2 separate regions of the Homo sapiens genome follow, and region 2 is linked to region 1. The links come from fine-mapping of genetic effects on gene expression. A gene starts in region 1. The other region holds a variant in brackets. All regions are shown on one strand. Distances are between the middles of the regions. Region 1 holds the start of DGKA (diacylglycerol kinase alpha). Region 2 overlaps PYM1 (PYM1 exon junction complex associated factor).

Region 1 (2,904 bases):
CACAAACACTGAAGACTGCAGTGCTACACCTGGCTGAGGGGGTTGTGTGTGTGTGTGTGTGTGTGTGTGTGTGTGCGTGTGTGTGTGTGTGTAGAGGGTGTCATTGCGTAGTATAGGAGGAAGTTACGATACTGGCATGGTTGGGGGATGTGGGCTTGTCTGTGCTGAGGCTGAAGAGATGCCCAGTAATATTTGCCATTCTTCCTCAGGAAGGCTCATTTCTCCTATCAAGGTGAAAAGTGAGATTCAGACTCAGGTATTTTCAGAAACTTCCCAGTGACAGGTGGGGAGAGGATGGGGTGGGAAGTTGGGGACCTGGAGGCCAAACAAGAACCCTTCTCCACCCGTGCGGCACTGTGGAGGTTCCGAAGAGGACTTCCCTCCGAGTCGGGTCCCAGGAACCGGGCTTCACCATCCCTCCGAATGAGCGGGAGGGATGGAGGGGAAGGTCTGGGAAACGTTACCCACCGGGTTCGGGCCCAGCCCTCCCGCTGCACCCCCGCGTCCCAGCGCAGACCCTTCTCGATACCCGCTCCAGCTGTCACGCTTCCTCCTTCCCGACCCAGCAGCACGAACGCAGCCCGTGGGTCCTCGGCTTCCCTACCCCTGTCCTTTTCCGATGGGGGAGGGTGGGGCGCTGGGGGGCTCGCGGGGTCTCTACCTTGCTTGAGAGGGCTCGCGGTCGCAGCTGAAGCGCCGGCGCTGGAGCTGGAGCCCGAGCTGGGCTGGAGGGGACGGGCCAGGCAGACGCGGCCGCAGCGGGGCCGCCCCGTTCCTGACGACATAGCTGCCCGCCCCCCACCCCAGCCTGCCCGCCGCGCCCGCGCCCGGCGCCCCCGACTCTGGGAACTTCGAAGTTGGAGAGGCCCGTTTCTAGGTTTCCAGTTCACCATAACCTGCTCCACCCTCCCTCGAATATGTCCGGGGCTTTGGACACATTTTCTCCATTTGCTGCGCTCCTCATCTTCTTCCCGCGCCGGCGGCAGCTCTGCTTCTATTTTCCCTTCTTTCTAATCACTCACAGCCTCTCCCTTCATCCCAAACCTGGGAGACCAAGATACCGGGCGGGCCGCTAACAGAACAGCTCGGCAGTTGGGCACCCAACCAACGTCTCATTCTCTCCTGATTGCTGCCATCCTGAACTTCCCTAACCAACTCCCTTCCATCCACCACTGACTTCACACTCAGGAGATCCCACGGGGGCAAGCCCAGAGTCCCAAACTCCACAACCTGACCAAACACCTCCCTCCCGCCCCGGGCTCTACCCTGCTTGAGACAATCTCCCCACCTTCTTCACGTTCCTCTTTCCTTTTAGACCTATTTTCCCCAGTCTAAGGACACCTCCTGTCAAGACTCATGTTCTCTCCTTAATTCTAGGGTGGAGTTTTGCACTTTGGTCTATGTCCACCCTTTCTCCACGCCCTCATCCTCCCACTTTACCTGCTGGTCTTGGCAGGTGGCACAGAAGGCCCTGGCCAAAAGTAGGGAGTGAAAGGTCCTTTCAGCTTCCCCTGCCTGGAGTCTCTTCTAGAGTCATTAAGGCTCTTGGGGTCGCATGGATGGTGGTGAAGGTGGTACAGCAAGGGAGAGAGATGGAGGCCTAGGGACTCACTGGCAGGAACTGGAGACCCAGGCATCCTGCTCACTGGCCCCGCCCCAACCCCTGTCTAACTCCCTCCTACCCTTCATTGAAAATGGGGCAGAGTAACAAAGCCTTAGGTTCCTGGAATCGTCCTTCTTACACCTGGGGGTGGGAAGAAGGGGGAGGGGAGACCTCTGACTAGAAGGGTATATGCATGTGTGGGTATTGTGTATGCATACATACACACACATAATATATACATACTTTTGGTGGGGGTTGGAAAGGGAATGAATACATGAGGCCCTCTAGTGGAAACAGGGATATCTAAGCAGTTCTTGATTGTTTCAAGACAGGCTTGTTGGAACAGACTCCTCCACATTTGCCAGAAATATAGCTGCTGAGTAATAGGGTTTGGGAGTATTGTTGTATCCAAACTGGAGATTTCGGGCATAGGTTGAAGAGGGGTCTGTCTCTCTGCTCCTGTGCCCCTCCAAGTCTCACCCTCTCACCCCCAATCATAAAAAGACAAGGGCCAAAGGCCGGGCGCGGTGGCTCACACCTGTAATCCCAGCACTTTGGCAGGCTGAGGCAGGCGGATCACGAGATCAGGAGATTGAGACCATCCTGGCTAACACGGTGAAAACCTGTCTCTACTAAAAATACAAAAAATTAGCCGGGCGTGGTGGCACATGCCTGTAGTCCCAGTTACTCGCGAGGCTGAGGCAGGAGAATCGCTTGAACCTGGGAGGCAGAGGTTGCAGTGAGCCGAGATCATGCCACTGCACTCCAGCCTGGGTGACACGAGCAAAACTCTGTCTAAAAAAAAAAAAAAAAAAAAAAAAAAACAAGGCCCTTGACACTCCCCATCCTGTCTTTACAGTATTTTCTTCACTGTTAGCAAAGCTTCATCTCTCCTTCCTCTATGACCTCCTTAGTCATAGTAAACAAACTCTTCTGAAGGCCTTTTATACACTAAGTCCTGTACTTAGTTCTGCAATACAAGCAAAAACATAGTCCAGTTTAGGGACTATATCAATGAGTGGTGCAATGTGTGTAAAGCCTCTCTGCTCTGAGCTACTTTAAACAAACATACAATGTAAGAATAGGTCCCCTAACACCTCTGCCTATCAGTTTTCTGTCCCTGGATCTTTCATTTAGAAATCTTGGAACGATATTAATCTCTAAGGCACTCAGCTTTCCTTGCAAAGAATGCTCAAAGTAATGCCACCCTATGTATTACCTGTGTTTCTCACTCTATCGTCTTTAGATATGTCCCTAAATAAAGTTGAAGACACTCCTTTTAAGATAGTTTTTGGTACTTC
Region 2 (2,904 bases), 30 kb after region 1:
AAAAGTCAGTAATTCTCTGAAACTCTTGACATCCTTTGTTTCCTGCAGATATGAAAACAAGTATGTGAAGTTTTTCAAGAGTAAACCAGAGTTGCCCCCAGGGCTAAGCCCTGAGGCCACTGCTCCTGTCACCCCATCCAGGCCTGAAGGTGGTGAACCAGGCCTCTCCAAGACAGCCAAACGTAACCTGAAGCGAAAGGAGAAGAGGCGGCAGCAGCAAGAGAAAGGAGAGGCAGAGGCCTTGAGCAGGACTCTTGATAAGGTGTCCCTGGAAGAGACAGCCCAACTCCCCAGTGCTCCACAGGGCTCTCGGGCAGCCCCCACAGCTGCATCTGACCAGCCTGACTCAGCTGCCACCACTGAGAAAGCCAAGAAGATAAAGAACCTAAAGAAGAAACTCCGGCAGGTGGAAGAGCTGCAGCAGCGGATCCAGGCTGGGGAAGTCAGCCAGCCTAGCAAAGAGCAGCTAGAAAAGCTAGCAAGGAGGAGGGCGCTAGAAGAGGAGTTAGAGGACTTGGAGTTAGGCCTCTGAGGCCTTTGGGGAATAGGGAATGGACTGCAGAACAAACCGTGGGGCTCTCTGGGGTCTGGGGGAATACGGGCAACAGCAGTCAGGAGGGGTACCCCCCATACTGGCTTACTTCCACCTCCTGCGGCCCAGCTCTGTCCTCCAGAGCCTAGCGTCTCCCTCAATCCTTCCCTTTTCTTCCCAACTTCTACTTTTTGGACTTTCCCCCTCCCATTCCCAGTGTTCAAAATCTCAGTGACTACCCCAGGTACCTTTGCTGCTGATTTGGGTGTCTTGTTTAAAAGAAAATCAGGTGGGTGGGAATCTCTTGGAGAACTGAGGCTGAGGGTAGAGGGAGTATGCCCAAGTCTTGGAGTCTTGGTTCCTGTTCGCGGTGTTTATGGGTTATTTCCCTCTCCATCCCTCATTTTTTTTTTTTTTTTAAAAAAAGCAAAAATGAGAATAAACACAAGTAGACATGTCTGGCTTTGCCTCCTTATTTTCAGCTCCTAGTAGATATTGTATCTCCTGAGTTTGGCACAGGAAGACAAGTATTGGGAGTGATTTCTTTTCTTTTCGAGACAGAGTTTTGTGCTGTTGCCCAGGTTGGAGTGCAGTGACGTAATCTGGGCTCACTGCAAACTCTGTCTCCTGAGTTCACGCAGTTCTCCTGCCTCAGCCTCCCTCCCGAGTAGCTGTGATTACAGGTGCCCACCACCACACCTGGCTAATTTTTTAGTAGAGATGGGGTTTCACCATGTTGGCCAGGCTGGTCTTGAACTCCTAATTTCAGGTGATCAACCCACCTTGGCCTCCTAAAGTGCTGGGATTTTAGGCATGAGTTACTGTGCCCAGCCGATATATATTTTTTTCTTTTTCTTTTTTTGTGAGATG[G/A]AGTCTCGCTCTGTCTGCCAGGCTGGAGTGTAGTGGCGCGGTTTCAGCTCACTGCAACCTCTGCCTCCCGGGTTCAAGCAATTCTCCTGCCTCAGCCTCCCGAGTAGCTGGGATTATAGGCACCCACCACCACACCCCCTCTAATTTTTGTATTTTTAGTAGAGACAGTTTCAGCATGTTGGCCAGGCTGGTCTCAAACTCCTGACCTCAGGTGATCCACCCAGTTCAGCCTCCCAAAGTGCTAGGATTACAGGTGTGAGCCACCACACCCAGCCCAATATTTCTTTTAATTTTTTTTTTTTCTCTTAGAAACTTCGTTGGTCCTGGAGAAAGGGAGGCAAACGGCCCCTGCCTCCCGCCGAGTGTCCCCCCAGCCCTCACTGTTTCCCGTTGCCATTGATGGGGTGGTTCAGGTGCTCAGTGGAGGCCAGGAAGGCCTTGAGCTTGGGCCGGACGCTGAGGTGTGCCATGTAGGCCGAGAGCAGGGGGAACACATCCAGGCAGCTGGTGGCCAGGACCTCATGGATCAGCAAGTCCAGCAGGTTGTAGTAAGCGAGGGATATCTGGTCGCCCACAATGAAGGCCTATCCTCCCTGGTTCTGGGACGGCAGGGTCTCAAAAGGCTTCAGTTGCCTGGGGAGTGCCTTCACATAAGTCACCCTTGCCCACCTCGTAGTTGGTATAGATGAGGGTGAGGTATTTATTTATTTACTTTATTTTTGAGACAGAGTTTCCCTCTTGTTGCCCAGGCTGGAGTGCAATGGTGCAATCTCGGCTCACTGCAACCTCCGCCTCCCGGGTTCAAGTGATTCTCCTGCCACAGCCTCCCAAGTAGCTGGGATTACAGGTGCCCACCACCAAGCCTGGCTAATTTTTTGTATTTAGTAGAGACTGGGTTTCACTATGTTGGTCAGGCTGGTCTTGAACTCCTGACCTCAGGTGATCCACCTGCCTTGGCCTCCCAAAGTGGGATTACAGGCGTGAGCCACCGAGCCCAGCCTGAGGTATTTAATTTTTTTTTTTTTGAGATGGAGTTTTGCTCTTGTTGCCCAGGCTGGAGTGCAGTGTCATGATCTCAGTTCACTTCAATGTCCACCTCCTGGGTTCAAGCGATTCTCCTGCCTCAGCCTCCTGAGTAGTTGGGATTACAGGCGTGCACCACCACGCCTGACTAATTATTTTTATTTTTATTTTTATTTTTAGTAGAGATGGGGTTTCACCATGTTGGCCAGGCTGGTCTCGAACTCCTGATCTCAGGTGATCCACCTGTCTCAACCTCCCAAAGTGCTGAGATTACAGGCGTGAGCCACTGCACCCGGCCAGAGGTATTTAATTTTTAAAAATTGTGAGTTTATGACCAAATTAGCAACACTAATTTCTGCATGTTTGCTGAGACTTCAGTAGACGAATTAGTGTTATAATCAAATGAAACTTAGAACAAATTTAACTTGACATGTTAATTTATATGTTGCCATTAGTGTGCTGAATAGCAACGGGAGTTC

The links. PIP is the estimated chance that this variant, and not a neighbour inherited with it, causes the effect.
Region 2: its variant is the best candidate, but not a certain one, in a credible set for the expression of DGKA in tibial nerve (GTEx, PIP 0.71).

What each region holds. Positions count from the first base shown.
Region 1 is chr12:55,929,881-55,932,784 of GRCh38, reverse strand. DGKA (diacylglycerol kinase alpha) reads right to left here and starts at 1,623. Exons shown (of 24, transcript NM_001345.5): 1 at 1,441-1,623.
Region 2 is chr12:55,899,500-55,902,403 of GRCh38, reverse strand. It overlaps PYM1 (PYM1 exon junction complex associated factor), which reads left to right. Exons shown (of 3, transcript NM_032345.3): 3 at 49-991. The coding sequence ends at 532. It also overlaps the pseudogene GSTP1P1. Among named protein-coding and RNA genes, the nearest start is that of PYM1, 27 kb to the left of the region's middle. The variant G/A (reference allele first, on the strand shown) is at 1,403.